2 separate regions of the Homo sapiens genome follow, and region 1 is linked to region 2. The links come from fine-mapping of genetic effects on gene expression. A gene starts in region 2. The other region holds a variant in brackets. All regions are shown on one strand. Distances are between the middles of the regions. Region 1 has its middle 54 kb from the start of HMGB3. Region 2 holds the start of MTMR1 (myotubularin related protein 1).

Region 1 (16,711 bases), 340 kb before region 2:
CCTGGTGATCCACCCCCCCAGGTTTCACTAGAGCATATTTCAGCGGCAGATTCCACAGGCCACGCAGTGACCAGGTAGGACAAAGGACATGGCTACAGTGACCAGCAAGGACCTGAGGGTAACACAGGGACTGCATGTGAATCTGGGGCCCCTTCTCTCTGAGAATATAAGAGCATCTCCCCATGCCCAGATGCCATTTTGGATGACAGAAGAGTTTGGGAAAGAAAGCCTAAAGGACTGAGCATTGGCCAGGTTCAGTGGCTTATTCCTGTAATCCCAGCACTTTGGAAGGCCAAGACAGAAGGATCCCTTGAGCCTAGAAGTTTGAGACCAGCCTGGGCAACAGAGTGGGATGCCATCTCTGCAAAAAATTTAAAAATTAGCTGGGTGCAGTGGTGCATGCCTGTTGTTCGAGCTACTCAGGAGGTTGAGGTGGAAGGATCACTTAAGCCTGAGAGGTTGAGGCTTCAGTGAAACCTGATTGTGCCACTGCATTCCAGCCTGGGTGACAGAGTGAGACCCTATCTCAGAAAAAAAAAAAAAAAAAAGACTGAGGACTTAGCTAAACTAAAGTACCTGAAAGAAAACAGCTTATACTGAAAAAGGGTTGGTTTCCTTTGATTAACAAGTTCATGTTTTTCTCTCCTATATCAATGGGAATGGAAGCTTCAAAACAAGATGGAATTATGGGAAGTTAGGAAGGCAGAACATTTTCACCTATCTGAGTATAGTGAGTGTAAATTTTCAACCTATATTGATTGTTTATTCATTTGTATCTTGCATCATTACAAAAAGGAGGTAAGGCAACTGTATTAGTCCATTCTTGCATTGCTATCAAGAACTACCTGGGACTGGGTAATTTATAAAGAAAAGAGGTTTAATTGGCTTATGGTTCCGCAGGCTGTACAGGAAGCATGGCTGGGGAGGCCTCAAGAAACTTAAAATCATGGCAGAAGGTGAAGGGGAATCAGGCATGTTCTCCATGGCTGGAACAGGAGGAAGAGACAGAAGAGGGAGGTACTACACACTTTTAAACAAGCAGATCTCATGAGAACTCACTATCACAGGAACAGCAAGGGGGAAATTCACCTCCATGATCCAATAATCTCCCACCAGGCTCCTCCTCCAACACTGGGGATTACAATTCAACATGAGATTTGAGCAAAGACACAAATCCAAACTATATCGGCACCCCAAATGGTGTTATGGCTAAAGGACTTAGAGAGATGGAGACTCAGAAAACCAAGCAAGCTCACAGTGACACTCTGGGTCTCTCGAGGCTCCGGTGACTCTCCTGCCAGCTCTTCATCCCTTTGCCTGCTTGTGCCCCTCTCCTTCTCACTTGTTGCTAGCAAGTTGCACTTGCTGGGGCCAATTCCATGCCCCAGCACATTGTTCTGCCACCCCAAGCACAATGCTGACAGTGCTCAGCTCTGCCAGGAAGCCTACCATATCCCTTTATGCCCATAGAATCTGAACCAGATCCCTGGGTGAGAGGTTTCAGGAGCTCTATGCCCTCAGCCCCAAACCTAGTAGGCTGAGTGGAAGCCCCACCCCCAGAGGAGTTGCCCAGGAGGAGGTTCCAGAGCACTGTCAAGTAAGATAGAGAATTGAAAAATCAGTGACCTTTTCAAGAGGAGCTTAGGTTCTGGATGGGAGATGGCAGCATGTTTCAAACCTGAGAGTGGGCAATGGCAGAAACAGGCAGCAGAATGGGGTTGAGTTGGTGGTAGGGGGCGACTGTTGGGGTGTAAGGAGTTAAAAACTAATACCACCCCCCCTTCTATGTTCAGAATCAATTGACAAACTTCACGAATTTCCTGAACTCCAGGAATGTACCTGCCTCTTTTAAGTTCAAGTTGGTACAGACTCAAATCTCTTTGTCATTTCCCCTTAACATGTCACACAGAACTTCCAAAACACTTAGAGAGCCAAAACCTGACAGAAATGACAAGGAGCACTTACTCTAGGGAAGGTCTTCTGGTTTCCAGGAAGAGATTCTTTTCAGCTTCCCCAAGTAAGGGGAGGAGAGACTAGATGAATTAGACATGTGGGGTTTGGCCAGCTTATATCCCTTCCTCCTTCTTCTGACAACACCTTGTTTCTCCATTAAGGAATTAGTCCTCTCAATCTATGTGGCCCTGAGGGGAGTGGTCAGTCATATCCCAGACTGGCTAATAGGGATAATCCATTCCCCCAGCCAGAGTAATTGGTCTAGGGGTGAACACATGACTGAAGCTGGGCCAATGAGAGTCTTTCTAGAGAAGTGCATCCTTGGAGATCTCTCTCTGATAGCACCACAATCAATAACATCGACTTAAAGTTAATTAACAATTAACTTTAATAATTGTTAATCAACTTTAAGTTGTTACTAGATGTCTACAAAAGAAATAAATTATTTACAGAATAAAGTAGAAATGTGACAAGAAAATAGACCCAACAAAAGAAAGGAGAAGCAAAGCCCTGGCAATATTGAGCCCCTAAAGTCAACTCAACCAATGGACTTCTCAGTTTAATGAGCTGATAAATTTTTTTTGTGCTTAAGTTAGTTTGAATTGGATTTCCATTATTTATCTAAATTGTTATGACTACTGCAATGCACATAAATGAGAACCAAAGACTCTATGGATCTTCGCTGGGACCACCAATGTGGGCCAGCTGCTCTGCATCCGTTGCCCGTAGATTTTGTGACAAACTGACTTCTTCACCCTCTACTCTCCACTTCTCATCTACTTCATGGCTTTTGGACTCTCATGGTTCATGCTTCCTGATAGCTTCAGCCTCCTCAGAACTTGCCATAGGTACATTACATCTCATGGCTCCTCTGACCTCTCTTGACCTCAGGGACTTTCAACTTCTGCTCTCACTGCTTGCTACCTCATCCTTCAGACGTTTTCCAGCTCAAGTTCCTTAGAGGAACTGATGAGTCAGGCTCATGTTTTCATGCTGGGCCACAGCACAGAACGCTATATAAGCACACTGCAAGCTCCTTTGAGGGCATCCAAATATTTCATTTTTTGAGCAATTTAAAATGGTATTGTATTTTTTATTTTCAGTTGCCACATGTTCATTGCTAGTATATTAAAATCAATTTATTTTTGTATTTTGATCTTGTATCCTAAGACAGTGTTGAATTCACCTCCCAATTGTAAGAGTTGTGGCTTTTTTTTTTTTTTTTTGAGACGGAGTCTCGCTCTGTCGCCCAGGCTGGAGTGCAGCGGCGCAGTCTCGGCTCACTGCAAGCTCCCCCTCCCGGGTTCACGCCATTCTCCTGCCTCAGCCTCCTGAGTAGCTGGGACTACAGGCGCCCGCCACCACGCCCGGCTAATTTTTCTTGTATTTTTAGTAGAGACGGGGTTTCACCGCGTTAGCCAGGATGGTCTCGATCTGCTGACCTCGTGATCCAAGAGTTGTGGCTTTTTTTTTTTTTTTTTTTTTTTTTTTGAGACGGAGTCTCGCTGTTGCCCAGGCTGGAGTGCAGTGGCGCCATCTCGGCTCACTGCAGGCTCCGCCCCCCGGGGTTCACGCCATTCTCCTGCCTCAGCCTCCGGAATAGCTGGGACTAAAGGCGCCTGCCTCCTCGCCCGGCTAATTTTTTGTATTTTTAGTAGAGACGAAGTTTCACTGTGTTAGCCAGGATGGTCTCCATCTCCTTACCTCGTGATCCACCTGCCTCGGCCTCCCAAAGTGCTGGGATTACAGGCGTGAGCCACCGCGCCCGGCCGAGTTGTGGCTTTTTAAATTGATTCTCTGAGATTGTCAACATAAACAATCATGCCATCTGCAAATAAGAGCAGTTATTTTATAGGGCCAAAACTGATCGAGCTGAAAAGATAAGTAGACAAAACCATAACAATAGTTGGAGGCATCAATACCTGTCTGTCAGTAATTGATAAATCCAACAGGTAGAAAATCAGCAGGAGTATAGATGACCTGAACAGCACTCTCAATCAACTTGATACAACCGATAGTTATAAAATACTCTATCCAACAACCACAAAATGCACATTCTTCTCAAGTTCACATGGTAAATTTACCAAGATAGACCACATTCTGGGCTATAAAACTCACCTTAGAATTTTAAAAGAGTAGAAATCATATAAGTATGTTCATATACCACAGTGGAATTAAACTGGAAATCAAAAAAAAGAAAGCTAGCTACAAAACTGCCAAATATTTTTTAGATTAAACAACATACTTATAAATAACACATGGGTCAAAGTCTCAGAGAAATTTTTAAATATTTTGAACTAAATGAAAACGTATCAAAATCTGTGGGATGCAGTGAAAGCAGTTCTTAGAGGTAAATTTATAGCATTAAAAGCATTTATTAGAAAAAAAGAGATTTTCTTGGGGGGGCGATCCCAAGATGGCCGAATAAGAGCAGCTCCAGTCCACAGCTCCCAGCCTGAGTGACGCAGAAGACGGGTGATTTCTGCATTTCCAACTGAGGTACCAGGTTCATCTCACTGGGACTTGTTGGAAAGTGGGTGCAGCCCACGGAGTGTGAGCCAAAGTAGGGTGGGGCATTGCCTCACCCAGTAAGCTCAAGGGGTCGGGAAATTCCCTTTCCTAGCCAAGGGAAGCTGGGACAGATGGTACCCGGAAAATCGGGACACTCCCACCCTAATACTGCACTTTTCCAACGGTCTTAGCAAACAGCACATCAGGAGATTATATCCCACACCTGGCTCAGAGGGTCCCACACCCACGGAGCCTCACTCACTGCTAGCACAGCAGTCTGAGATCGAACTGTGAGACAGCAGTGAGGCTGGGGGAGGGGCATCTGCCATTGCTGAGGCTTGAGTAGGTAAACAAAGTGGCTGGGAAGCTCGAACTGGGTGGAACCCACCACAGCTCAAGGAGGCCTGCCTGCCTCTGTAGACTCCACCTCTGGGAGCAGGGCATAACTGAACAAAAGGCAGCAGAAACTTCTACAGACTTAAACCTCCCTGTCTGACAGATTTGAAGTGAGTAGTGGTTCTCCCTGCACAAAGTTTGAGATCTGAGAACAGACGGACTGCCTCCTCAAGTGGGTCCCTGACCCTCGAGTAGCCCAACTGGGAGACACCTCCCAGTAGGGGCTGACTGACATCTCATACAGCCAGGTGCCCCCCTGAGACGAAGCTTCCAGAGGAAGGATCAGGCAGCAATATTTGCTGTTCTGCAATATTTGCTGTTCTGCAGCCTCCACTGGTGATACCCAGGCAAACAGGGTCTGGAGCAAACTCCAGCAGACTGCAGCTGAGGGTCATGACTGTTAGAAAGAAAACTAACAAACAGAAAGGAATAGCATCAACATCAACAAAAAGGACATCCACACCAAAACCCCATCTGTAGGTCACCATAATCAAAGACCAAAGGTAGATAAAACCACAAAGATGGGGAGAAACCAGAGCAGAAAAGCTGAAAATTCTAAAAATCAGAGTGCCTCTTCTCCTCCAAAGGATCGCAGCTCCTCACCAGCAACGGAACAAAGCTGGATGGAGAATGACTTTGACGAGTTGACAGAAGTAGGCTTCAGAAGATCAGTAATAACAAACTTCTCCAAGCTAAAGGAGGATGTTCGAACCCATTGCAAAGAAGCTAAAAACCTTGAAAAAAGATTGGATGAATGGCTAACTAGAATAATAGCATAGAGAAGACCTTAAATGACCTGATGGAGCTGAAAACCATGGCACAAAAACTATGTGACGCATGCACAAGCTTCAGTAGCTGATTCGATCAAGTGGAAGAAAGGGTATCAGTGATTGAAGATCAAATTAATGAAATGAAGCGAGAAGAGAAGTTTAGAGAAAAAAGAATAAAAAGAAACGAACAAAGCCTCCAAGAAATATGGGACTATGTGAGTTTTACTTTTATGTTGCTTTTGCCTGAGATGAAGTACTCTTTTTGGCCAGGACTGAGTCATGCAATATTACCCCTATGGCTGAAGGGAGTGGAGATCATTAAACCCTGTGAACCACATGGAATGGGCAGGGATACTATACAATGATTATGATACTACTACTACTAATATCTATTGAGTGCTTAGTAAGTTCCAAGCACTTAATGTATTAACTCCCTTATTTCTCATGGTAACCCTATAAAGTAGGCACTAGTGCAGTGGTCACCACTTATCTCTGGTTTTGCTTTCAGCAGTTTCAGTTATCCATGGTCAACCACAGTCCGAAAGTATGGAGATATTTTGAAAGAGAGAGGGAGAGAGAACATTCACATAACTTTTATTGTTATAATTGTTCTATTTTATTATTAGTTATTATTTTTAATCTCTTGCTGTGCCTAATTTATAAATTAAACTTTACCATCAGTATGTATATATAGGAAAAAAAACATGGTATATACAGGGTTCAGTACGATCTGCAGTTTCTGGTATATCCACTGGAGGTCTTAGAACAGATCCTTCATGGATAATGAGAGGCTACTGTACTAGCCTCACTTTAAGGATGGAGAAACCAAAGCATGATGAGGTTAAGTAATTTGCCCAAGGTCAGACGTCCAGTAGATGATAGATTGAAGAGAGGTGATTCCCCAAAGGAGTGGGTGTTGAGCCAATAACAAAGCATATGTCCACTAGTTAGTTAAATTGTGTTCATGCTAATTCAGCAGTAGCTATGAAGAAGAGACTCCCCGATTCTGATGTCTAGCAAGGTGAATTCTCAGAGCTTTGCTATGGAACTGGGAGAATTTATTAAGATTGGCCTCTAGCCAGAAGCAATATACCCTTCAAGACCAGCCAAACTCCCTTGGTTCCTGAGAAACTTGTGCTGAATAATTTGATTTTTCAGATGTCCTGAATGGGAAGGGAAAACCCTAACCAACAAGATCTAGTATTCCCATAGAGAGATGTATAGCAATCTCCTCCACAGAGAGATGGATCTGCTGGCTTACAGTCTAACTGCCAGTCAGTTGAGAGTTTAGGGAGAGTGAGTCACTGCCCCATCTCACTCCCATTCAGAACCTCAAACTTCAGGGTGAACTGGGGAGAGCAAGATTTTGGCCCTGCAAACCTGAGGGGAAAAATCCATGGCTTTTGATGTACTGTCTCCTCTCCCTAATAATGGATAATCTTAGTAGTAGTATCATGATTATTATACAGCATCCCTGCCCATTCTGTCTGGTTCAGAGGGTTAATGATCCCCACTCCTCTTGAGCCCCAGAAGTGGCACTACATGACTACGGCTTCTCATCTTCAGAGGCTTAGGCGGCTTACTCATGCTTGTTGCTGTTATCATTGCCATCTTCTCCTCTTCCTCCTCCTCCTCCTCTTCCTCCTCCTCTTCTCTCCCTTGTCGAGAGAGGAAGAGAGAGGAGACATGCACCACTCTCATGAAGGCAGCCAGTGATAGAGGCAGGCTATCCCAGACACCACCAGCTAACACAAAGCCCGTTCACCCTCAGGTTTCTGTGTGCCAACCTGGCATAGCTGTCCCTGGCACCTATAGGGTGTGGCCTTCAAATAGCTGTCAGTTGCTGAGGGAAGTAATCCAGGCCCCTGATGTGTCACTCGTGCATGCTTTTCTCTTTTTCCCCAAAAATGTATTAGGCATGTGGACCACCAATTACATGCCAGGCCCCCTTGACACAACTTAATCCTCTGGTCAAGTGTTTGGAATTATGATGACAAAGGGCGCTGTCTTCTTGGATTCTCCAACATTCTTATCAGGTCCTTGAAAGTGCCAATGCAGTTCCCAGACACCAAATGGGCCCTTAGGAAGACAGCATTCTTCATTCCTTCCAATTAACAGATGGGGACATAGAAGCTCAGTGAGATTAAGTGACTGATTCAAGGCCACACAGTTAAGTAGAGGAGGAGAAAGTCCTTAGGTTTTCTGACTGCAAAGTTAGTGCTCTTGGCCCTACACCAAGCTAACCTCCAATGAGGGGATTTGCATCTCTCTGAGGGATATCAAGCCATAGTGATTCATGCTGAGGGGAGAGCATGAGCCTGCAAGTTGGGAGGCCTGGTGTATGAGTTTGCTAGGGCTGCCATAAAAAAATACCATAGGCTAAGTGGTTTAAACAACAAACATTTACTTTCTCACCATTCTGAGAAATAGCACTATTTCTCTAACTGCTGGTAATGCTGATTCTCAAGTGTCAGCTTGTTCTGGTGTCAGCTTTTGCAGGAATTGTTCACAGCTGAAAAGAGTAGCCTAGCTCCAGGTCACATCCCCTTCAAGGGACAGCTCCATCCAGTGACTGGTTGATGTGGGAAGAGGAGGGGTATAATGGCCCAGCCCCTCTCCACAGCTCTGAATGACTCTGAAGAGCCATTCCAGCCCCAAAGTTCCCCTTGGGGTTGACCAAATCCTTGTTGTGACTTCACTGCAGCTCAACTGCTCCTTCTGCCCACTGGGCTTCCTGTCCTTCCCTTGTCCAGGCATTGATCCCGAAAGCACACACAACTCCGCCTCAGTATCTGTTTCCCAGAAAACCCAACTAAGAACTGTAACAATAATGATGATAAGGTGTGATCGCACTGCAAGAGGAACATGTTTATGCTGCAGTGGAGGAGATCATCATGTGATCTCATTCCCTACAGCTCTACTTTCACTCACACCATTGCAGGCCCACAGATCTTTTTACTGTTCCTCATACACACTGTTCTCCTCAGGGCCCTTGCACATGCCATTCCCCTGCCTAAAATACACATCTCCCAGACAGCTACACAGCACACTCCCTCACCTCCTTCAAGTCCAAAATTACAGCACCACTTTCACCATCTGGCACTGCTGGCCTTCTCCATGCGTGACTTTTATCCATAGCATTTACCGCTTTCTAATGTACTATAGACCCTACTTCTTTATCTTGTTTATATGGTCAGTATCCCCCAACTAGAACGTCAGCTCCATGAGGGATGGGAATTTTGTGTGTTTTTGTCCTTATTATCTGCCTATTTACAAAACACCTTCATCAGTGCCTGATATTATATAGTAGATCCACAATAAGTACTTATTGAATGAATGGATAGATGGATGAATGAACTGTATAATTAATAAGGAAACAGGGATGCTCAAAGACTTCCTAGAGGAGGTGCCACTTAAGCTGAATGTGAAAGCGAAATGTGACCACTGGAGTTATTCTGAAGAGCCTCCAGGAATCAATGCACAGGAGTTTGGCTTGTGAATTTTCCATTTTCCACTTTTGGGTAGTTTAAGGCTATAGGCTTTTTCATTTAATTTATTTTACAGTCCCATAAAAATCAAAGGGAAACAAACATGTTTTTTTTCTTTTACAAGCGTGAGAACTTTGGGAATGTGGTTGGAGGCAGAGGGGCCCAGAGCCTGCTTCCTTGGTCCATACGTGTACGTAAAAATCATTCACTGAGCAGTTTTACAGTCAACAGAAATTTTTGCTTTTATTTATTTTTTATTTTTTGTGGCAGTCCTTTCAAAGCAAACAAGCTCTTGGTAAAACTGAAGCATAGAGTCCTAACCAAGTTGCTCATATGTGAAAAAGCTTTGGGAAATTCAGGGACTGTATTTGCAATAAAACCTTTGCAGTGGCCAGGGAAATAGG[A/T]TTGTATATTCTGGTTAATGCAAGTGTCTGCCGAACAGAATTACTGTGAATTCCCAGACCTTGATGAGCTCAATCCAGAAAACTGAAATATACCAAGCACAGAGAACACCAATACTCCACCAAAGAGAACTTCTTCCTTTGATCACTCAGAAGGTATTTGCATATTTTGCAAGCCTCACTGTCACCTTGATGACCCCGAGTGTCAGTGATTGTGCGACTTTGAGAAATGTAGGTGTAACTGACCTCTAGTTGGGAATATGTTCGGCAGCCTTTGTAATGAACTCATTAAATGAAAGTCAGTTTCTTAAGAACTTGTTTCCCATGTGCCTTCTAATGCAGTGGTTCTCAAGGGGTCAGGTGGTTGGAGGAAGTGCTCTTAGAAAGGCGGAGAGTGTCTCAGAATTATCTGGGGGCCTTTATCAAGGTAAATACCTCCACTCACCACAGCCAGAGATTAAGACCCTCCCACAGTTTATCACAAAGCAGGTACATTTATATCTGCATTGCCAATGATAGTGCTGCTCAGATACAAGCTCTAGGCTCCAATCCTTCCCCCACCACCTACTGAGAGTCTAACACAGGACAATGACCAGTGGGGAAGATCAGCCTGCCTGCCTTCTACATAGTAGTAGAATGACTTTGGACAATGGACTTAATTGAGCCTCAGTTACTTTTTCTGAAAGCTAGAGCTAATAATCCTAGCACTGACTGCATACACTACACTTCTATCTGGCCAAGAGAGACTTTCAGTACTTTGTGTCTCTCCACGAAGTCATCACATTCTTATGGACAGCCAGATACATTTCCTTTTATATAGTGCCATCTCTAGTCAGCCTCAAACATGTCACGCCTGTGTTGGCACCATCTTCATGGCCCCAGAACTTGCCATCAATGGACAATGAGTATTACCAGAAGTAGCAAAAAATACTCCAAAAGGCCTGCGGCCCTTCTAAGATTAGGACTGTCTTTGGTATATTCCAGTGTGTTTGGTATATTTCTTGAGTTCCAGTATATTTGGTATATTTCTTGAGTTCCACCCTGATCTCCAAATAATTCTCTGTTTTATGTATCTGACCTTCCAGGAATGGCCATCTTGAACTAGAATTCAGTTTCAGTTTTCCAACATGCTTCTCACCTTCCTACCTTGTTTTTCAGTGCCAGGAAATAAACAAATCCTTAGAAACTAAACTCAAACAAATACATTCATTTATTTAATCATTCATTTGCTCATTCAGCAAATATATGCTAAAGGCTTACTATGTGCCAAGAGCTGTGCTAGGCTGTGAGATACAATGATGGATAAAGCAGGCATAGTTTCTGCCCTCATGAAATTTATAGTCTAAAGGGAGAACAAAAATTAACAAAGAAATACTTATTCAAAAACTGTGCCAAGTGTCATGAGGGAAATGAATGGGGTACCCTGACAGAGGATGGAGAGAAGGAGGCATCTACTGAGAGAGGGTAATAAGGAGCCATCTCTCAAAGGAAGGGACATTTTAGCCAAATGCAAATGGATGAGAAGCCAGGCATGAGGAGAGTAGGGGAAGGATATTCCAGGCAGAGGGAAGAATATGTGCAAAGGCCCTGAGGCAGGAAAGTGTGACTGGAGTACGTGCAAGTGAAGGAAAGTGGCAGGAAATTAGGCTGGGGGTGGGCAGCAGCCAGATCCTATAGGACCTTGTGGGTCACGGGAAGGAGGTTTGCTTTTATTCTAAGTACAAAGAGATACTATTGCATGATTTTAAGCAGAGGAGTGACATGAGTTGAAGTTACATTTTCAAAAGGCTCACTCTGGCTGCTATATAGAGAATGGATTATAAAGGGCAGGATTGGAGCCAGGACACCAGAAATAAGCTACTGCCATAGTAAGGGTGACAGATGATGGTGACTTGAACTAGGGCAGCAGCCATGGGGAAGGAGAGAAGTGGACCAATTCAAGACATATATTTTAGAGGGAGTATTGGAATGACTGTCCAAGAGTTAGTGAGCAGTATCCTGTCCCAGAGCTGCGGTCAGGGATGGCAGGGAGTGGAGTCCTTGGCTTAGTCAATTTTGTGCTGCTATAACAGAACACACAAGACTGGGTAATTTATGAAGAACAGAAATTTATTTCTCATAGTTCTGGAGGCTGGGAAGACTAAGATAAAGGCACCAGCATGTGATGAGGGCCTTCTTGCTGCATTCTCACATGGCAGAAGGCAGAAAAGGGCAAGAGGGGATGATTCTCCCTCCTCTTGAGCCCCAGGAGTGGTACTGCATGACTTTCTCTCCTCACATACAGAGGTTTAGACAGCTTGCTCAAATTTGCCATTGTCATCGTCTTACTCCTCCCCTTCCTCTTCTTCCTCCTTCTCCTCTTCTTCTTTCTCTTCTTTTCCTCTTCCTTCTCCTCCTCCTCTTTCTCCTTTCTCTTCTTTTCCTCTTCCTTCTCCTCCTCCTCTTTCTCCTTTCTCTCTCCTTTGCTGGGGCCGGACATGCACCACTCTCATGAAGGCAGCTGGTGATAGAGGCAGGCTATCCCAGACACCACTGCCTAGCACAAGGCCCATTCACCCTCAGAGTTCTCTGTGCCAATCTGGCATAGCTGTCCCTGACACTTGTAGAGTGTGGCCCTCTCATAGCTGCCAGTTGCTCAGGGCAGTAATCCAGGCTCCTGATGTGTCACTCATGTGTGTGTGTCTTTCTCTTTTCACTACAAATGTATTAGGTATGGTGAGGATGGCACCTCCCTCAGCCTGGGCCCTGAGTCAGGTGATAGATGACTTGCAATGGATACATAGAATAAAGTGAGAAGTAAGCCTTATTGAGTTAGCACTGAGATTTGAGGGTTGCTTGTTACTGCAGCATTACCTAGCCCAATCTGACTGACACACCATCCTCCCAAATTCCAGCTTCAGATCTAGGAGCCACTACTTCTCCATAATTGAGCACCTCTTCACAGAGACCTGCCCTCCACTAGACTTTTGCCCCACAGACCTGTCCTTGGGGTTACCCTGGAGCTACTTTCCCCCAAATAATGACTTTGACCTTCTCAACAAGTTGTACCAGGCCCACGTGAAAGCCTAGAGCAGAGTCAGCCTGAAGGCTGGGGTCAGGAGCAAGCTGGGCAGTGAAATGAAGAAATAAGATGATTGTTAATGGGTTGGATTGTGTCCACCCCCATTCATATGAAATCCTGACCCCCAGTACATCAGAATGTGATGTGCTGCTTTGGAAATAGGGTTGTTGTAATTAGTTAAGATGATGTCATTAGAGTGGCCTCTAATCCAACATGATTGATATATCCTTATAAACAATGGAAATTGGGGCTGGGTGCAGTGGCTCATGCTTGTAATCCCAGCACTTTGGGAGGTCAAGGCAGGAGGATCACTTGAGCTCAGGAGTCTGAGACCAGCCTGGGCACCATGGCAAAATCCTATCTCTACAAAACATACAAAAATTAGCCAGGTGTGGTGGCACACACCTGTAATCCCAGCTACTCAGGAAACAGGTGGAAGATCTCTTGAGCCCGGAAGGCAGAGTTGCAGTGAGCCAAGATTGTGCATCTGCACTCCAGACTGGACAATAGTGTAAGACTGTCTCAAAACAAAAAAGAAGAAGAAGAAGGAAATTTGGACACAGAGACACACACAGGGAGAGCACCATGTGAAGATGAAGGCAGAGGATTAAAGATTAGATGATGATTCTACAAACCAAGGAATGCCAAAGATTGTCAACAAACCCCCAGAAGCTAGGGGAGGGGCCTGAAACAGATTCTCTCTCACAGCTCTCAGAAAGAACCCCAACCCTGCCCACACCTTGGTCTTGGACTTGCAGCCTCCATAACTGTGAGGAAATTAATTTCTGCTGTTTAAGCCATTTAGTTCGCAGTGCTTTGTTACAGCAGCCTTAGAAAACTAATTCAATGAGAAATAGTAGTGAAATTCGCAGCAGTGTTCATAGGCAAACTTTGTAGCCCTTCATGCAGTTTTCAGAGTGTTTCCAAGTTCCCATGGCAGCTGGAGATGTGGGCAGACTAAGTAGGTCCCCAGACTAGGCAAAGATTATCAAGCATAGGCTGGAATCAGGGGACCTTGAGAGTTTGAACAAAAGACATCCCAGCTGGAACCACTATAGACCAAAGTTACAAGAGCCACCACTGGCTTTTGGACTTTGAGAACACCTCTAGACTTTGGCATGATCTTGGGATGAAGCCCCATTAGTGACTGAAATAGAATTTTCTGCCATCCTGGTATTGTGAGTTGAATATAAATTGATTTAAAGAATTATTTTAATGAGACCTTCCTGGTAGCCCAAAATTTGTGGACTGAGATGCAGAAATTCTACATTAGCTGCCATTTATTCAGTGTATACTCAGGTCTTCCATGGCCCCTAAACATGGCCTCCAATGCCAAGCATGGCCAGGCCTCTGCCTTCCCTGCAGCCTCATTTCTTACTACTATCTTTCTCTTCCCTAAACATACCAGGCTAGTTCCCATCTCGGGGCCTCTTCACCTGCTGCTGTATTTACGTTTAACACTCGCATTAGTCATCCACTCTCTGCCTCCCTCTGGTTATTCACAGTTCAATTCATTGTCTACTACTATATTTCCCTTCCCTAAACATATCAAGTTAGTTCCCATCTCCGGGCCTCTTCACCTGCTGCTGCATTTACGTTGAACACTCGAATTAGTCATCCACTCTCTGCCTCCCTCTGATCATTCCCTCTGATCATTCAGAGTTCAATTCAAATGCCACCTTTCTAGAAAGGGCTCTCTTGACTTCCCACTCTAAAATAGCGACTTCCTCCTCATTCTATCACATTATTCTGCCTCATTTCCTTAGTATCCATTACTCACTTTGACATCATCTGGTACATCTGTTTACTTACTTGTTTATTTTCCTCCCACATTACCCACTGCAGGGCAGGAACTCCATCTGTCATATTGACCACCATGCACCAGCCCTGAACAGTGCCTGGCACATAGTAGGCTTCCAATTAATAGTGTTGATTGAATAAGTTAACATCTTCTCATTCATTGCCAACCCTGAGTACCCAGCACAGTGCCTGGCACCTACACACTCAAATAATAACTGTTGAAAGTGGAAAGAATGCCTAGAGTGGAGCCACATAGAGGAGGAACAGCCAGTGCCTCCTACTAGAACTGAGGGGTGCAGGGTCTCTGCCACTCCATCCCCACATTAGCCCACCACATTGATAGACATATGCCCCTCTACCACCATATCAGCAGGACAGAGCAACTGCTGACAAACAAGTTTCCATTTGTCATGTACCTTGGCACCCCTGAGATGACACATAGGTTTCTAAGACTGTTGTCTGATTCTTGCACATAGGTCCAGGATAGAGTACTACATAGCAACAGCAATTTTCTGGTGTCATTTCAAGAGCTTCAGTGATTGAGTCATGTTGGGGCAAGGAGAACACCCACTTCCTCCTCCTCAGAGAGGAGAAGTTGCCTTATATGATAGACAAGTTTGTAACTTTTTAATTTTTTTCACTAATATGATTCTTAAATTGACAAATCCTAATTGTATACATTTATGGGGTTCAAAGTGGTGTTTTGACATATGTATGCAATGTGGAATGATTAAATCAATTGCACAGCAGGGTGGCTATAGCCCATAATAGTGCATTGTATGCTTCAAAATAACTAAGAGTAAATTTCAAATGTTTCACCACAAACAATAATAAGTAAGTGAGGTGGTGGGTACGTTTGAAAGGAGAAACTAGGCATTGGTAGGCCAGCTCCTTCTTCCATTTCCCACTTTCTCTACACTGCCCTTGGCCAGACAGGAAGCCTACAGGTAAGGGAGGAGGTAAGGAGAGTCTATCTGTGCCTTTCTTCTTTGTTTTAGGTCTCAACTGCTTGCAGGCTCCAGTGAGGAAGAGAAACGCTGTGAGTTGAGCTCCCTGAAATCCAAAAAGTAAAACCAGAAAGGAAGCTGAAATTGTAGGTGGGAAGGAAGGCAGTGCTGGAAGGTTGAGCAGTGCCCAGCAGGTATGTTTTACTGAAGGGAGCCAGGAAAGCACCATGGCAGGTAGGTGGTGAGGGAGAGCATTGAGGACAGAATCAAGTGTTCATACTGAGAAATGAAGGATACTGGAGCCCTCAACAAACATGGAGCATGTTGCAGGATTCTCCTTCACAGAAGCCATCAGCAGCCATAGTCTGAACAGCATTTGAGGCACACACCAAGGTGGGCATATATATCCGAGGTATCCAATGGCTTGGGAGAGCTAAATGCCAGGTGGAAGCGGGGATATCAGGGATCTGCCTCAAGTCAGTGTAGGTTGAAGAGCTGTTTGCCTGGGAATTACTACTCAAGAAAATGTGTCTTTCTAATACTGATCTGCATATTTATAAGTCAGGTCCAGTCTCATTTCGATTTGGTGTTGACTGGCTGCCGGTGAAGTAAGTCTGAGGGCACTCCATGCACAGGTCCACTGCAGGGACCTAGGCTGCAAACTCATGCTGGCCAATCCAGGAGCCACAAGCCCCTTGTGTTCATAGAGCATTTAAAACTGGGTTAGTCCCAATTGAGATGTAGAAAAAAAAAAACACACTGGATTTCAAAGACTAAAAATAATTTTATATTATGTCTTGAAATGATTACATGTTGCAAATAATGAGTTAAATAAAATATATTGCTAAAATTAATTCCACCCTTTTCCAGTTTTTGTTTTTTGTTTTACTTTTAAATCTAGCTAGTAAGAAATTTAAAATTACACATGTGGCTCGCATTATATTTCTACTGGACTGTGCTGGTCTAGACAGTGCTCGTAGTGATCGTAGCCTATGATCTGCTCTCCCCAGCAGAGATGCTTGGGTCCTGTATTAGTTTGCCTGGAGTGCCATAACAAAAATGCCAAGGACCAGGCAGCTTAAACAACAGAAATGTATTGTCTAACAGTTCTGGAGGCTACAAATTCAAGATCAAGGTGTTGGGAGATTGAGTTCCTTCTGAGAGCTGAGCTGTGAGGGAGAACCTGTTCCAGCCCTCTCTTCTACCCTCTGGCAGCCTTAAGTGTTCCTTGGCACAGAGTTGGCATTCATTCTCCCTATGTCTCCACATCATCTTTCCTCTCTGCTTGTTTGTCCCTCTGTCCATATGTCCCCATAACATTCTTGGGACCTATTTGTAGCCACAATGGAGCTCACCTAGGGAGAAACGGATGGAGTTTGACAGA
Region 2 (16,711 bases):
AAAAGAAGAAAAAAAAAGATCGAAAAGCAGTGGATGGGAATGGGGGTGGGACAAAATCTTAAAATCACTCTAGCTTTTCAATAGGATGACTTGAGTTCAAATCCCAAGTCTAACTGTATGACCCTAAGCAAGTCATTTCATCTCTCTAGGCCTCGGTTTCCTCATCCATTAAATGATGATTGTAGTAATAGCTACCTCAATGGACTTTTTTAAAGAAGCAAGATCTCTCTATGTTGTCTAGGCTAGAGTGCATTGGCTTTTCACAAGTGTGACCACAGCACACTGCAGCCTTGAACTCCTGGACTCAAGTGATCCTCCCATCTTAGCCTTCCAAGTAGCTGAGACTACAGACCACCACACCCAGATTCACTAGGTTGTTTTAAGGCTTAAATGGATGACATGTCAAAAAGCATTACAAAACCCCAGAGCCTGTATGTGTTAGAGGGTTGATGATGATGATGATGATGATGACATAGAACCATTCTCGACAGCCTGTTACAACTCAGAAGACAATCAGCATTTCAAATAAGATGCCAAGCATTCTGCTCCACATAAACATCTGCTCCCATTTAATTACTGATGTTGAGTTTAATCTATAATAAATTAGCCCCCAAATTAAGTGTGTATTTCAAATAAGACATTTACACAACAGATAATTTCAAATATCAGCTGATGACTGCAACTTAAATCCTCAAGGAACTTTATCTGGCTCTTCAGGGTCAACCCCATGCAATAGCTCCCATGCCAGAGGGGTCCCAAAGGCCCATTTTGGTTACCCTGATTTTAAGAACTACTTTATAGGGAACATGTACAATTATCCTTGTGGTTTAGAAATATTTTATGTATTTATTATGTAAAAAAAAAAACTCTCCTTGAAGAAAGTGTAACAACCCCTGAGTTATAAATTTAACACCAACTTTTCAGATTTGGCTGCAGGGCAAATATAACAAAGACAATTATAAAACATGCCCCCTTACAATAATTCATCAAAGACTTTAGCTATGATCTGATGTAGGAACTTAAAATTTAATTTCCAAAAGAAAGAAAGCCTTATTTTTTCTGAATACCATCTGTTCAACCATTCCAACATGAGCTAATTCAGCTACACAAAATTTGTAAATAGACTGAGATTGAAAAAACTTAGTTGCTTCATGTTAAAGTACAGATTCAGTCTGATCTATTCATGCAATGTTAGAAAGCTATGCACACAGTCGACATTCAATCTTTTATAGGACACACACAACACTAACAACTATTCAACCTTAATGAAAACATTACAGTTAACTCATAATTGTCCATAAAGAAAATCACCCCGAAGTGTGAGAGCTATTCTCTGCTAAAATGGGTTCTTAAGTCTCTCTACTCAGCGGGCAGTTTCTCAGCTAAGGTGCAGGCAATAGGGCAACTGGAACTGATGCGATCCGCAGCTGCTCAGTGACCAGCCATTCACGCATCAGTGATGCAGCAAATGCTTCTCCCACCTGGAGACAGTGTGTTTGCCCGACCAGGTTTTAAGGTCCAGGAGCCCCAGCTGCTCTTTTATGGGCAAACATGAACACCACATAGCAGGAAAAATGATTAAGAAATACACTGTCACTCTTCTAGCTGGGCAGATTATCCAATTTCTGCTAATCCACAGCTATGCCTTCCTTTGGTAGGCATAATCAACAGCATCTGCCAGTTTGGATGAGGCAAGAGACAGCACCATAGCCAAATCTCAATTAATTGGCCTCCTGAGCCTGTTTCTGCACTTGTTATTACCCTATGAGCTCTAAAGAGGAACTGAAGATAAAGCTCCTAAACAAGGAGTACCTATTAAGAATTAATTAGGATCTTTACTGTAATTCTTGATATTTGTAAGATTTGATGTCTGGCAAGGACCATGATATTGAGAGACTATTAACTAATGGTAGTCTGGGATACCAAATGCATTTTACACACACTTGTGAAAAATCAATCATCTCTTACTAGCAGGAAAAATGACCACTAATAAACAGAAACCTCAACTTAGGCAAACATCAGTACTGAAATATAAATGTGATTTCATTTAATATACCTATTAATAGTTTATTGACATTAAAACAAAGTTAGTCTTTAGCCTTAACAAAGATGGAACAAGCGATTTTTTTGATTTGTTAATTGATTCAATATTTATTGAGCAACTGTTATGCTCCAGGATTGTGCCTGGGAAGCCAGTGGTAAAACTGCCCTAGTCTCTGCTGACAAGGAGCTTATCACTTAAATTTAGAATAAGCAGGGAATCTAACTTTTAAAATGAACAAAAAGAGATTTTCACTTCAGTAAGGACTGAAAAATGAGGCTGCCCATACAATACTCTTTTGAGATTCTGGAAGGGTTTTTATACATTCTAGTATCACATGTTAATGCTGAATACTCACAGATAATACATAAATTAAAAAATTGTGAAGTTAGGGAAGTATTGTACATCAAGATATTTCCTGAAACTCACAATACTAACAAAGAAGCTATATGCATTTATTATTATAAAATGGAACTTGATTTTTAAAAGAATCATTGTCATCTAAAGACAGCTTCTCCTTTCAATTACAAAACTATGACTACATGTACTGGATACTGGTAAAATTTCTCTTCTACATTTCAGATCTAACAACAGAGAACCTTTCATCCTTATTCTCGAGCAAATGGCCATGTTGCATCAAAAGGCCAACAGCTCACTTGAATTAAAACTGCAAAGCTTCTTGGCTACTTAGCATACTGAAAATGAATTAAACACTCAATGTTGCTTACCTTGTAATCTCTGGACACATTTTCTGATGTCACTGAACCTGAAATCTGACTAGAAATTGTAGCAGCTATAAGCTGTTTACACCATTCAACATGTGATCCTGTGGGACTAAAAAAAATAGCATGGATTACAAAACGTTATATCATAGGATCTCAGTGAAAAAATTAGCACTGAATAGGAATATGATAACACTTCTTTTTTTAGATGAACTAACTAGACTCTTTGGTTACCTTCACATTTTATGTAAGAACTGAAATAGCGACTGACAACTAGGAAATAAGATTAGATTCCAGGTTAATTTTAAATGAATCACCCAATTTTCTCAAACAAAGTTGAAGATTCTAGGTGTTAGTTAAGCTTACTATTCTCTACCATTTAATGGAATTTTACTCTATTAAAATTATATGGAAGAAATACTTCTTTTTTTTTTTGTGAGATGGGGTCTCACTCTGTCACCCAGGCTGGAGTGCAGTGGTGCAATCTCAGCTCACTGCAACCTCCCAGGTTCAAGTGATCCTCCCACCTCAGCCTCCTATGTAGCTGGGACTACAGGCACATGCCACCAGGCCCGGCTTTTGTGTGTGTGTGTGTGTGTGTGTGTGTGTGTGTGTGTGTGTGTGTGCGCGCGCGTGTAGACAGGGTTTTGCCATGTTTCCCAGGCTAGTCTCGAATTCCTGGGCTCGAGTGACCCACCCGCCTTAGCCTCCCAAAGTGCTAGGATTACAGGCATGAGCCACCACACCCAGCCGGGAGAAATATGTGAAATATTTATCTTACAGCATAGGCTTTTCAAACATTCAATCAATTTCATGTTGGTAGTTTTAAATCTAGAAAATAGTGTACTTTTGAGTGAAGCAAAGTGACTCAGAAAAGTAAAGCTGAACATGAGATTTATAAATTACAGCCTAGAAAAATGATGTTCTCTGTGTAGTACTAACAATACCTTACACTTCTATAAGTGCTTTGACAACTTACAAATGGTTTTTATTTTTTATTTATTTTTTTTTTTGAGACAGAGTCTTGCTCTGTCACCCAGGCTGGAGTGCAGTGGCGCGATCTCGGCTCACTGCAAACTTTGCCCTTCTGGGTTCAAGCAATTCTCCTGCCTCAGCCTCCCTAGTAGCTAGGATTATTTAGGCGCATGCCACCATGCCTGGCTAATTTTTGTATTTTTAGTAGAGACGGGTTTTCACCATGTTGGCCAGGCTGGTCTTGAACTCCTGACCTCAGGTGATCCACCCGCCTTGGCCTCCCAAAGTGCTGGGATTACAAGCACAAATGGTTTTTATTATATCAGAGCCTCACAACCATGGTGTGATGAGAAGGCAGAACAGGGACTAGCCGACTTGTCTTTGAGGAGAGAAAATCGAGGCACAGAGGTGACATGCCCTGTGAGAAAGTGGCTGTCCTCAACAGGACATGGAACAACCAATAGCGACTGACTCACTGCACTGAAGCCAGCAGCACAGATGCGAGCCAACCGCTTTACATGAAAACACAGCAATGCAAAGAAAATGTCATCTTTCACTCCCACAGAGCTCTGAGGCATCAAAGCATTTTCACACACGTAGCCTTGCCCAGCCTCACAGTGACCCATTTTACAGATGAAAAAATTAAGGTCCAGTTTTGCCCAAGGTCACACGACTGGCAAGTGGTCAGGCTGTACTCACCTGACCTGAAAGACCACATAAGCCAACTAGCGCAGTAAGAGATTTAACAATTGCCCCCAGAGGCCGGGTTCCTCTCACAATTTGGCAAAACACTAAGAAATCAAGCTAGAGGGCTAAAAACACCGACAAAAGTTTACCTTGCAGGTAGCTTTCACTGTAAAGAATGTTTCAGGCCTTTAAAAAAAAAATCATATCACTAATTAAACCCACACTCACATATCTGAAGGACAGAAACACCTGGAATCCCCAGGCAATATGGAAAATGACCCAAATAGTAAAAGAAAGAAAACTGAAGTTCTGTGCTAGTGATCCAAATTGCAGTCTCTGATCAAAACAGACCAGAGGTTATCTGTATGGTTGAAAATACTGAATGAGCAGAAATTCCTATCACATGCCAGGAATCTATATACCACAATTTCGACCTGAGGGGGAGAAGGAGAGAAAAGGGAGAGATTTGTTTCCTTTTTAAAGGTTAAGTCACTTTCATTCCCACGTATATCATACTTTTCTTGTCATAATGCCTTTTTCTGTCAGCACCCACCAGTTGCAAATACAGGAAGAAACTGCAGAAACCCAACTGCTGAGCATGAGTGTGACCTGCTATTACCACCTGCCTGCCCGGCATGCCTTCCCCCTTCTTCTGATAAAGACCTTCCTCTTTACTTTGGGAACTGCCCTTCCCCACAACACAGGCTTCTGTGGGGGAAAGCGGAGAAGAAGGTTGACCCCTTCCTCCACCTGCTCCCACTTGTAGGTGAGTTACCTAGGACCAGCCAATCCCAGACTTTTCCCCTTGGATCCTGAAATACATGGATCTGTATCCAGAGCTGCTGGAGGCCACTCCCCACCCCACCCCACCCCTACCATCTTAAGGAACTCACAGCGATTAAAAAGTGAGGGAAAATAAAAGAGAGAGGGAGAGAGAGATGGGGAGTCCCGACAACACTGTTTGCAATCCTGACCTCAACTGTGCCTGTGGCCATCTCTCCTCCTGTCTGGAGCAGTTCTGTGAGCCAGGGCATCTCATTTGCCTTAAGCTAGATTGAACTGTGGTTTCTGTCACCTGCAACCAGAAGCATCCTGGCCAATGTAGTTACACACAGTGAAGCACAGTGGGTTAGCAGACAGGAGGCCTGGACATGAGTCCTGCTTCTGTCACCAGCTAACTCCATGATCTTTGGCAAGACACATCCTCTTACAGGACCACAGCTTCCTCATTATTAATTACAGTATTCAGAAGAGAAGTGAAGGCCCCATAGTCCCAGGGACATGGCCAAGTCCCACCCATAGAGCCAGGTTCCATTCTAGAGGTCACTCTTCAAAGAAAAGTGTGAATCTGAGCTTGTTGAGCTGACAGAACTGAGAAAGGAGGCCATGATTCCTCCCCCATCCCTTCTCTGTAGTCTGTGCAATTGCCCTCTATACTCCTGGTGTCAATAACTACTTACAGGCTGGAGGCTCCCAGCTCTGTTTCTCCAACCTGGACTCTCCTGATCTCAATGCTGATGTTCCTACAAGACCTGTCCACTAGTCTGGCCCAGAGACCCTGCCAATTCAACCTGTCTAAACCAGCATCAGCCGCTCAGCCCCGCAACCTACTCTGCTCCTGTGTTTCCTAACTCAGGGCGCAGCACAGCCAGTTATCCGGCCCCCACACGCTAGAAAGCTGAGGTTTGCCTTGGAGTCCACCCGGCACTCCCCCCTCACATCTGAATGCTCACCATGTCGGGTCACTCTTACCTGGTAAGCATCTTGAAAATCCACCCAGCCCTATTCCTAGCCCAATTCCCTTTTCCAGACCTCCATCATTCTTCTGTGAACTCCACCTGCCTCATGAATTTAAGCCTCATCTATAAGCCCATGACTCCCCAGTTTGAATCTCCAGCCCAGACAACCCTGAACTCCAGGCTCAGATAGATCAACTATATCTTTGACATCTATTCTGGGACATATAATTGGCATCTCAAAATTGATATGTCCAGAGCGAAGAGCCTGCTATTTTCTAACCCTGCTCCACCTTAGAAAGACTTCTCCATCTCAGCAACACAATTTTCCCACAAGCTAAAATTTTGGAATTCTCCCAGATTCTTCTCTCATACCAACCAACCAATCTTCAGCAAACCCCATTGGCTCTACCCTGCAGGTCTTCAAATTACATGTAGTATCTGACCACTTCTCCCCTCCTCCGCTCCACTCTGGACCACCATCTCACTTGGCTTACTACAATAGCCTCCTACTGACAGTCTCTGCTTCAGCTCCTTCCCCTTTCACTCTATTGTCCACATAGCACCATGGAGAGCCTACTGAAATCTACAACAGATGATGTCACTCCTCTGCACAAAGTCCCCAGTGGCTCCCCATGGCCTCTGAGGCTCTCCACCATCTGGCTCTGTGACTTCTCTAACGTCATCCCTTACTTGTCTCTCCCTAGCTCCCTCCCTGCTAGTGACACCTAGTCTCCTCGCTGATCTAGGAACACTTGGCTCACATTCACCTCAGGGGCTTTGCACAGGCCTCTGACTAGAATACTATCACCCCCAGGTATCTGTATGGCTGGATCCCTCGCCTCTTTGGGGGCATTACTCAAATGTCAGCTTTCTCAGGCTTTCCCTGATCATCAAAATCTCTGAAGGAAACCAGAAGATGAGGCATATTTGGGGGTGACACATTCTGGTCTCCTTTGGCTTCTTAAATGATTCTGATGCATGCCCATCCTGAGTACTTCTGTGTTCGCCTCTACCACCTATCTCATTTATCACATTCGATTTCCACTGTTGGTTGGTTTGTATTCTCCACTAGATGGTAAGTCTAGCAAAATGGTAAGGCAGCAAAAGCCGTGTTGTGCTATTCTCTGAATCGCCCAGACCTCGTGTGTGGTTGAATATTTGCAGATGAGTGAAGTCCTCACCATTTCAAGTGCTGTCTTAGCTGTGACTGGTTTTCAGTGACACTAACCACTTGGGTGATTAATTTATTAAAATATATTGTAATTACACTGAGGTAGAAACAAAAGTGAAGGGAATGTTTCTTGTTTCTGTGCTTTTGGAAACTCCCAAAAGTTTGGCACAATGGGATGACCAAGACAGGCAGGAATGGGCATGTAAAACTGACTGAGCTACATTCCAACAGTGCATGCTGCCTGAGTGCACTCTGGTGTCAGGGAAATGGCCAAGTTGTGGGAAAACTGGATGTTCCGGGTTACACGATAGGCCATCTCTTGTCGTCGGAGGAGGCGGTGGCCCCTCCCAGTTCGACACGGTCACTTTATGTTTCTAACTGATTTCTCTTAGTTCTGCAGCTGCCTCAGAAGCAGTAGGCTTGCTTGTGTGTTCATGAAAACAATAAACTGGTTCCCTCAAAGTGTGAAGAACTGAAAGTAAATGGTTCTGTTTTCTTGCCTCCTGAGCAGTTTGGACGTTTTCCATCTCAGATTTTTGCCTCGATCTGCACCAGCTCCCACGCCCGCGGGGTCCCATCTCCCCGTCCTCACTCCCAACCCCCCATCAAAGACCCTAAGCAGCCACAGCAGAATTGGGGTCTTAAAACCACACGAGGCAAGGTGATGCTAGAAGAGGAGAGCCCGGGTGGGATCTCCCTCCCAAGAGGATTGGTGGCCTGGGCAGGGACAGCCAAGCGATCGCCAAGGGCAGCAGGTGGCGGCGCCGGAAGTGGTTTGACAGCTGCGAAGCCCCTCCCGGGGTTCCAGGAGCTGGGGCTCTCGGGGCGGAAGTGAGCCAGGTGCGCGGCCCGCAGCAGGTCCGAGGGCAGCAGTCCCCGGATGGGGCGCTGAGGTTTCCGGGGGTGGGGGGGAGGAGGGCCCAGAGGGGATGAAGAGGGGCCGCCCACCCCGCCACCGCCAGGCCCTGCGCAGCGCGCGGGGAGGGGGCGGGCTGGCCTCGCGCGGGGCCCTCGGGAGTCGGGGCGCGGGAGGCCGGGGCAGCCCGGGCCCCGCTTACCTGTCCAGGGTCTCCACGCTGGGCTGCCGGGAGCCGGCGGTGGCGCCCCCCGCGGCCCGAGGAGGCCTCCTGCCGCCCGCCGGCCCCGGGTTCGGGCCCCCGCCGCCCTCGCAGCCCGCCGCCGCCGCCGCCGCCGGCCTGTCCATGGCGCGCCGAGTCCTGCCGCCTTGGGGAAGCCGCCGTCGGGACGGGAGCGGCGGCCGGGAAGGTTTCGCTGCTTGCCTCCTGCCGCCCGCTCTATACCGCCCGCCCGCCTCAGGCGGCCGCCGCCATTAGCTGTCACCTGGCGGCCCCGCGTTACCCACAAGGCCGCGCGCGCGGGGGTCGGGGGGCGGGAGCGGGGGCGGGGAGGGCGGCGCGCGGGGCCGGCGCCGGGAACCCCCACCTCGCCCAGCCCCACCTGGGCGCTCGCCCACGGAGCCTTACAGCGGGGATCTGGGACCTCCTGCTCCAGCGACCTGGGTGCGTACAGAGCCACTGGGGTTCGGAATCCCCAAACGGATTATGCGTAGCGTGCTTCACTCTATAGTCACACCGGGTTGACTGCAGAGACGTGGGGTGTAAAAAGAAGTTTGAAGACATTCAAGTATCAAAAATGATTTCCCACCTCAGTTGTCCTTCCCGGAAAAGGTATAGAACAGCTCAAGCTCCCTCGGTCTTGACATCTTGAAGCAGGAGCAATTCCGTGCATTTTAGCAATTCCTCCCCACCCCATTCTTCCCTCCACTCTCCCCCTCCATACGCACCCCGCCGCCCCGCCACAAACCCACCCCCTTGCCATCTGTAGGGCAACCAAGTGTTCTGATGCCGCCCTCGGAGCTTCCGCCCATGGTTTATGTTAAGAGTAACATTTAACTTCTGTTGATTAAAAAATCACTGCTATGAACATCAAGCCAATATCTTGGTGAGGCATTTAGGACATTTGCTTTCTGGGCTAGATTTATTTCCTTGCTCATTTTGTTTGGGTTCGAATATCCAACAGCTCATCCCCTCTCACCTCACCCCTGATTAAGTTGGGAGTGGGTGTGTGGCTCGTGATTAAGCCTCTTTGCCTGTGATTGCTCTGGGTGTAGACAGGAGGCCTGCGACCCAGGTCTGGAAAAGAAGATATAAAGGGAACAATTTGCTCACTGTTAAAAGGCAGATCTGCAGACAGGGAGTTACTCATGCCCATCCCAGACCCATCCTGCCCCACCAGCTTAATAACTTCAAACTGAACTTTGAGGATATGATGCCTGAAGCCCCGACAGCCATCTTACGCACAAGAGGAGGTGAGCCTGGGGTAAGAAGATGACAGAGTGAGGAGGGCTAGGAGGAAGGAAAGGAAGATCCCCAGACAATAATAGCTCCTATCTCACACTGGAGAATCACCGACTGCAGGTTGCTGGCTTTCTAAAATTATTAAATCAAATGGTTAACCCACTGTTATGGACTGAATGTTTTCATCCCCCTGAAGTCCATATGTTGAAGCCCTAATTCCCTGTGTGATGGTATTTGGAGATGGGGTCTTTGAGAGGCAATTAGGTCATGAGGGCCAAGCTCTAGTCTGATGGAACTGGTGCTTTTTAAGAAGGGTCACCAGAGAGCTTGATCTCATGCACTCACATGCACACACTGAGAAAAGGCCGTGTGAGTACACAGCAAGAAGGTGGCCATCTGCAAGCCAGGAACAGAGCCCTTACTAGGTCCCTGCTGGACACTTAATCTTGGACTTTCCAGCCTCCAGAGTTGTGAGAAAATTTCTGTTGTTTAAGCCACCCAGTCTATGGTATTTTGTTTTGGCAGCCTAAGCACACTAAGACACCCACTTTTAGTTGGGTATTTTGTTACAAGTAGCTGCAAGCATCTTAGCTGTGCTGAGAATTGTCAGAAAGAAAACAGTGCAACTTTAAGCATATTTTAAGTACCATATTCTTTAAGAAACATTAGGCCAAAGAGGAATTCACTGTGACACTGTCATACTTCCAATTCAGTTAAGTACACTTAGGATTTAGAGGACAGAGATGAATCTGACATATCCCTGCCTAAGATGTTCACAATCCAGTGAAGGGGACAGACAAATTAACAATGACATTACAAGTTGGCAAGTGCTATAATGGGGACAATTGCACAGGATGTGGAACACCTACCCCAATCCATAGGAGAAGAGGAGGTCAGGAAAACTTCCCCAAAAAGGTGACATAAAACTGAATCTTTAAAGATGAGTAAATCCTTGATGAGGCAAAGGAGTCAAGTTATTCCAGGCAGAAGGCACAGTTATGGGCAAAGGTGTGGATTAGTAGGTATATTAATCTGTTTTGCTTTGCTGTAAAGGAATACCAGAGACCTGGTAATTTATAAAGAAAAGAAGTTTATTTTGGCTCACAGTTCTGCAGACCGTACAAGAAGCATTGTGCTGGCATCTGCTTCTGGTAAGGGCCTCAGCAAGCTTACAATCATGGTGGAAGGCGAAGAGGAAACAGGCATGTCAAATGGTGAGAGAAGGAGCAAGTGAAAGGTGAGGGAGGCACCAGACTCTTTCAAACGACCAGCTCTTGCATGAACTCATAGAACGAGGATTCACTCATTACCACGGGGAGGGCACAAAGCCTTTCCTGAGGGGTCCACCTTCAGGATGTTCACAATCCAGTTTGCAACCCAGACACCCCTTACTCAGCCCCAACTCCAACATTAGGGCTCACATTTCAACATGAGATTTGGACGGCACAAACATCCAAACTCTATCTGTAGGTTAAATAGCTTATTATGTGCAAGAGAATGCCAAGAAATCGAGTGTTACTGGAGCATAAAGTCAGACAAGATAAGTGAGGATCTGGACTGGTGGTAGGCCAAGAAGTTTGGGCTTTGTTCTGCAGCTCACCAGATCTCAAATGTTAGTGTGCAAGAATCAGCCCCAGTCTGCATTTTCAGCAAATGCTCCCATGATTCTGATGCGGGGCTTGCTGCACTTGGAGAAATACTATTGTATAGTCCCCCATCTACGTCCATTTGATAGATTGTGCTTCCAAAGACTGCTGCAATAATATCCCCCATCCCACACACTCTTTTGCAAGGTGATCTTACCACTCATACATCAAGAGGTGGATTCTGTTTACCTTCTCCTTGAATGTGGACTGGCCCTGTAACCCCTTTGACCAATAGAATGTAGCAGAGGTGATGCTGTATAATTTCCAAGGCTAACCCTTAAGGGATTTGCAACTTCCAGTTTGCTTTCTGTGCATACTCCTTCTTGGAAGTCAGCTGCCATACTCTGAGGAAGCCCAAGCAGCCACAGGGAGAGGCCCATATGGAAGAGAACCAAAGCTCTCAGCCAATAGCCCTAGCTGAGTTCCCCAGGCAGCATGGCCAGAAGCCAGCACTAACTGCCAGCTATGTGAGTGAGGCCATTTCAAGCCTTTCAGTCATTCTGGTGGCCTAGCCAACACCACATGAAGCTGATGAATCATACAATTGACTCACAGATTTTTGAAAACTAATGAATTATGGTTTTAAGCCACTAGGTTTTGGGGTGATTTTTTGTGCAGCAATAGAGCACCCAAGCATTGCTCTTGATGAATGATCCAGAGAAGTAATCCCCTACCTGCTCAGCTCCCTTCCCCATTCAGCTATAGGAATCCATGCACAAATCACAGCCACACTCCAAGGAGGGTACTCCACAGTAGTAGGTCAGAAGCTGTTATAATCTAAGATTTTACCCTACTAGCAAGCTGAAAATTTAGTTGATCACCACACTCTAACACTCTGAGAGAAAATATAAAGCCTCTGGATCCGAAACAAAGACAGTTTATTATTCACAGCAAAATCAGCAGCCACAGCAATATCTTGGATCTGCATCCTGAACCCCAGTCTCTACAGGGTGGCATGCTGTTCTGCAGTGCAACCTTGCCACTCTTACATTAAGAGGTGGTATCGGCTGGGCGTGGTGGCTCACGCCTGTAATCCTAGCACTTTGGGAGGCCGAGGTGGGCAGATCACCTGAGGTCAGGAGTTCAAGACCAGCCTGGCCAACGTGGCGAAAGCCCATCTCTACTAAAAATACAAAAATTAGCCGGGCGTGGTGGCACATGCCTATAATCCCAGCTACTTGGGAGGCTGAGGTAGGAGAATCGCTTGAACCCAGGAGGCAGAGGTTGCAGTGAGCTGAGATCCTGCCACTGCACTCCAGCCTGGGCGACAGTGCGAGACTCCGTCTCAAACAAAACGAAACAAAACAAAACAAAAACAGGTGGTACCTATTTCCCCTCCTTTTGAATGGGGGCTGGCCTGTAACTGCCTTTGACCAATAGGAGGCTAGATAGTATCTGCACATGTAATGGGATACACCACAGGAGAGAAAACCCCAACGCAGGAAACTCTGGCTACTAGTGACCTACCCATTCTCCCCTGCAGGGAGAGAGATTACTCGTTACCTTGGAATGAATGATCAGATGTAAACAAATGTCCTTTGTGGAGATTTACATTTACTACCCTGGATTGGAATGTCTCCTCATACCAACTTTACTAACGTGGCTGTAAATGTATTTCCTCAGAGAACCCTGACCATGCTGAAACCGGAGATAGTCATGGTGAATTGTCTCCAAACACACACAGGCCCTACCACCCCCTTCTGCCCACATGGGGGTCTAGTCATAGTTGCTGGGCTGACTATACTGCATTCCTAGAAATCACTCTAAGAGGACAGGCACATGGTTTTTGTATGCCACCTGGAGCTGGAGTTGTGTGGTGGGAGGCAAGGTGAAGAGTGACTTCTCAGGCCCGTGGTGATGCTCACCAGGAAACAGGAAAGGCCTCCTTTGAATGCCCAGCTGCACTCTGCAGTTCCTGCTGGGGAAGTGGGAAATGTATATGAGTATGCTGCATGTTTGTGACATGTTTATGCATGTTTATGCCATGTTTATGTAGAAAGTAGTAGTTTTCAAAATTACACGCATGAAAATGACTTGGGACATCAATTAATGTGCAGATTCATGAGCTTCACCACAGAGAATCTGAAAATTTAGTAGTTAGCTAGGGTGGGTGCTAAGAATCCACATTTGATAAAGCACCTCAAGTGATTCTGATATACATGGTTTGAGGACCACACTTTGAGAAACCCTGTTAGAGGTGACAAGGAGCCACAGCAAGATCTTGGAAAGGGGTGAACTGATCATATTTCCACTCCAGAAAGATCACTAGGATTGCATGATGGAGGATGGACTGGAGGGGCAAGAGTGGCCGTGAGAAGGTCAGTTAAGAAGTTGTTGTCATAATCAAGGAAGACCTGATGCATGAACCCTAACATTGGACAGGACTCAGTGACTGATGGAATGTTGGACATGAAGTGAGGAGGGAAGGAGATGCCAACGTGGGCCAAGCCTGGCACTGAGGTTTCAGACTTGGAAAACTGGGTAAAGGAGATATTAGCCACTGATAAAAGGAATCCAAGATGACAAGCAGGTGGGAGAGGTCAGTGACCAGGATGAATTCATTCTAGACATGTTGAGCTTGACCCACCCTAAGTCCAAGCCCATAAGTTGCCTTTGTGTATATTAGAAAAAAGAAAACCCTTCCTAACAACACTGGACTTCTGTTAGTCATAAAATTGTCATAGTATAACCAATTTTGTTAAAGCTCAACCTTTGGCTGCCATATGCCAAGAGACTGCCATAATAGACCTAGAAATCTATGTGGACCTCATTCTGAAGGATCCCTGTCTTAGTCTGTTTGTGCTGCTACAACAAAATACCACAGACTGGGTAATTTAGAAACAATAGATAACAATAGATATTTATTTCTCACAAGTTCTGGAGGCTGGGATGTGAAACATCAAACCTCTCGCTGGTCTGGGCCTGGTCTCTCTGCTTCCAAAATGATGCCTTTGTTGCTACATTCTTCAGAGAGGAGAAACGCTGTGTCCTCACATGGCAGAAGGTAAAAGGGTGAACACCTTCTGTTAAGCCCTTTTATAAGGGCACTGAATCTCATTCATGAGGACAAGCCCTCATGACTTAATCACTTCCCAGCAGGCCCCAACTCTTAACACCACCACCATGGGGATCAAATTTCAACAAGTGAATACTGGGGACATTCAGACCATAGCAGTCCCCCTTAGATGTGGCCCCCTTGTGCACTTCACAACCTGTGCAACAATGCATAGCAGTCTTGGGGGGTACCTATGGGTATCCAAGTGGAGATGTCCAGTAGACAGTTGGAAAGGAACTCAGGAAAGAGAGGTAATAAAAAGTTGGCTAATTTTCGTAAAATTTGAGGACAGAGGAACTCTTTGTAATTTAACCTTCAGCTTCACGATTTGGAAACTACGGTTGGGATCATCACTTTCATTTCTTGAAAACAAATTAAGCAAATGAAAGTGGACCTGATCGTCCCTTGTAAAATAAATTTCTCAAAAACATAATTTTGCTAGGACTGAGCAAAGCTAATCCTCAATGGAATTACATGTGACTGCACTGCAGAGAAATGTTCCCATCATTTGGAGGGTTTGTAGTGTCAGCTCAAAAGAGCAGGGCTTCTGCCCTTATGAATGGGTTAGTGGATTATCATGGGAGTGGAATTGGTGGCTTTACAAGAAGAGGAAGAGAGGCCTGAGCAAGTACGCCTAGCTTCCTCACCATATGAGGCCCTGCACTGCCTTGGGATGCAACAGCGTTCCCACCAGGAAGAAGGCTCTCACCAGATACGGCCCCCTGACCTATGACTTCTCAGCCTCCAGAATTGTAAGAAAAAATTTATTTTCTTTATAAATTATCTAGTTTCAGGTCTTCTGTTGTAAGCAACAGAAAATGGACTAAAACAATAAACTACAGAAAAAGCACCACAGATGACTTAACTTTGCCTTTAGAAGTTATCTGGAAGGTTCTCAGCCACAAGTTCAATTATTGGCAAGGCTAAAGGATGCCTCGGGAGGCTTTTGCCTTCACCACCCCCATCATCTCCACCATTCTTTGATGTTGAGATTCCTGTATCCTCAGTCTTATGACAGGTGCTCTACAATGCAGTGTCAAGCTCACCTTCACACAGAGACTGCGGTCCAGAGACCTCATACTCTCAAAGCTCCAGAGACTCCACTTGCCTCAACCTGGCAAGCATATTTCAGAGACACACTTTTTGCCCCACTCAGTAAACACATAAATTTCTCCCAGATAAATTCCCTTAAGGCAGCCACATTTAAGCAAGCAGCTGAGATATAGTGGTCTGCAAAGGAGGGAGAAGAGTCCAAAATAGGAGGAGGTCCAGGAGATGAGGTTGTCAATGAAGTCAAAGGAAGAACATTGTCTTCAGAATCAATCTTGACCTTGGGTGCCTGGGTGGAAAGTGATGCCAGTCCCTGAGATTAAAAAATAAAAATAAAGAATAAAAAAAGAAAGAGAAGCTATTTGAAGTGGAAGAGCCTGTAACATGTCCAGGAGTGACGGGGTAGATGGGTCTGGTGCCCAGGAGAAAGGCCGGGCTACAGATTTCAGCCTAAAGGTGTAAAACCTCGAGAGGCAGAACTGGCTAGCTGTGTAATGTGTAGGGCCCAGGGCAAAATGAAAAATGCAGGGTACCTTGTTCAAAAGTATTACAAATTTCCAGATGGTGATAGGAAAGCATTGAATCAGGAATGGGGCCTTTCTAAGCATGGGGCCCTGTGTGAGTGCACAGGCCAAACACCCATGAAGTTGGCCCTGATGAGAATGTGTAAATTTGCCTGGGGAAAACATGTAAAATGAGAAGACAAGTGAGCCAAGGAGACATACTAGATCATTGGCACTGACAGGGCAGGTGAAAGAAGAGCGGCCCGGGAAGAGCTCGGGGGGTTGGCAGAGACAAGCAAAGAGTCAGGGCAGAGGGGGCATGGGAGCCAAGAAAGTCAAGAGTTCTAAGATGGAAAGAGTGATCCAGAGTGTCAAGTGTTGCTGGGACATCTGGTAAGACAAAGAAGTGTTCCCTGGATTTGACTGCAAGGAGGTGGTGTGGACTCTGCTGAGAGCACTCCCAAGGGACAGAAATGTCTGGGAGGGCAAAAAGAGAGACAGTGAGTTCAGACCACCTAGTCACAGGTTTTGAGTTGCATGGACCAATAAAATGAAAACAAAACCGAGACCCACTGTTGTTGTTGTTGTTGCCATTGTTCTTGTTGCCATTGTTGTGTGCCAGGACCATAACATATGACTGCCAAGTAAGGACTGTGTACATGAGGCTCCATCTTTGAGAACCAATGTTGAAGCCTTCCATTGCCCTGCTTGCCAAGTAGATGTCAGCTGGAGTTAGGGGGATCCTTTTCATCCTGAGCACCACCACATGGGGCTCACCAAAAGTGGGGAGAAAAACACACAGTC

What was found. PIP is the estimated chance that this variant, and not a neighbour inherited with it, causes the effect.
Region 1: its variant is the best candidate, but not a certain one, in a credible set for the expression of MTMR1 in ovary (GTEx, PIP 0.81).

Annotation. Positions count from the first base shown.
Region 1 is chrX:151,029,224-151,045,934 of GRCh38, reverse strand. No RefSeq gene overlaps it. Among named protein-coding and RNA genes, the nearest start is that of HMGB3, 54 kb to the right of the region's middle. The variant A/T (reference allele first, on the strand shown) is at 9,523.
Region 2 is chrX:150,685,359-150,702,069 of GRCh38, reverse strand. It overlaps MTMR1 (myotubularin related protein 1), which reads right to left and starts at 8,674. Exons shown (of 16, transcript NM_001306144.3): 1 at 8,394-8,674; 2 at 2,770-2,875. The coding sequence starts at 8,539. RefSeq lists enhancers at 7,131-7,210, 7,231-7,330 and silencers at 8,224-8,363, 8,674-8,743.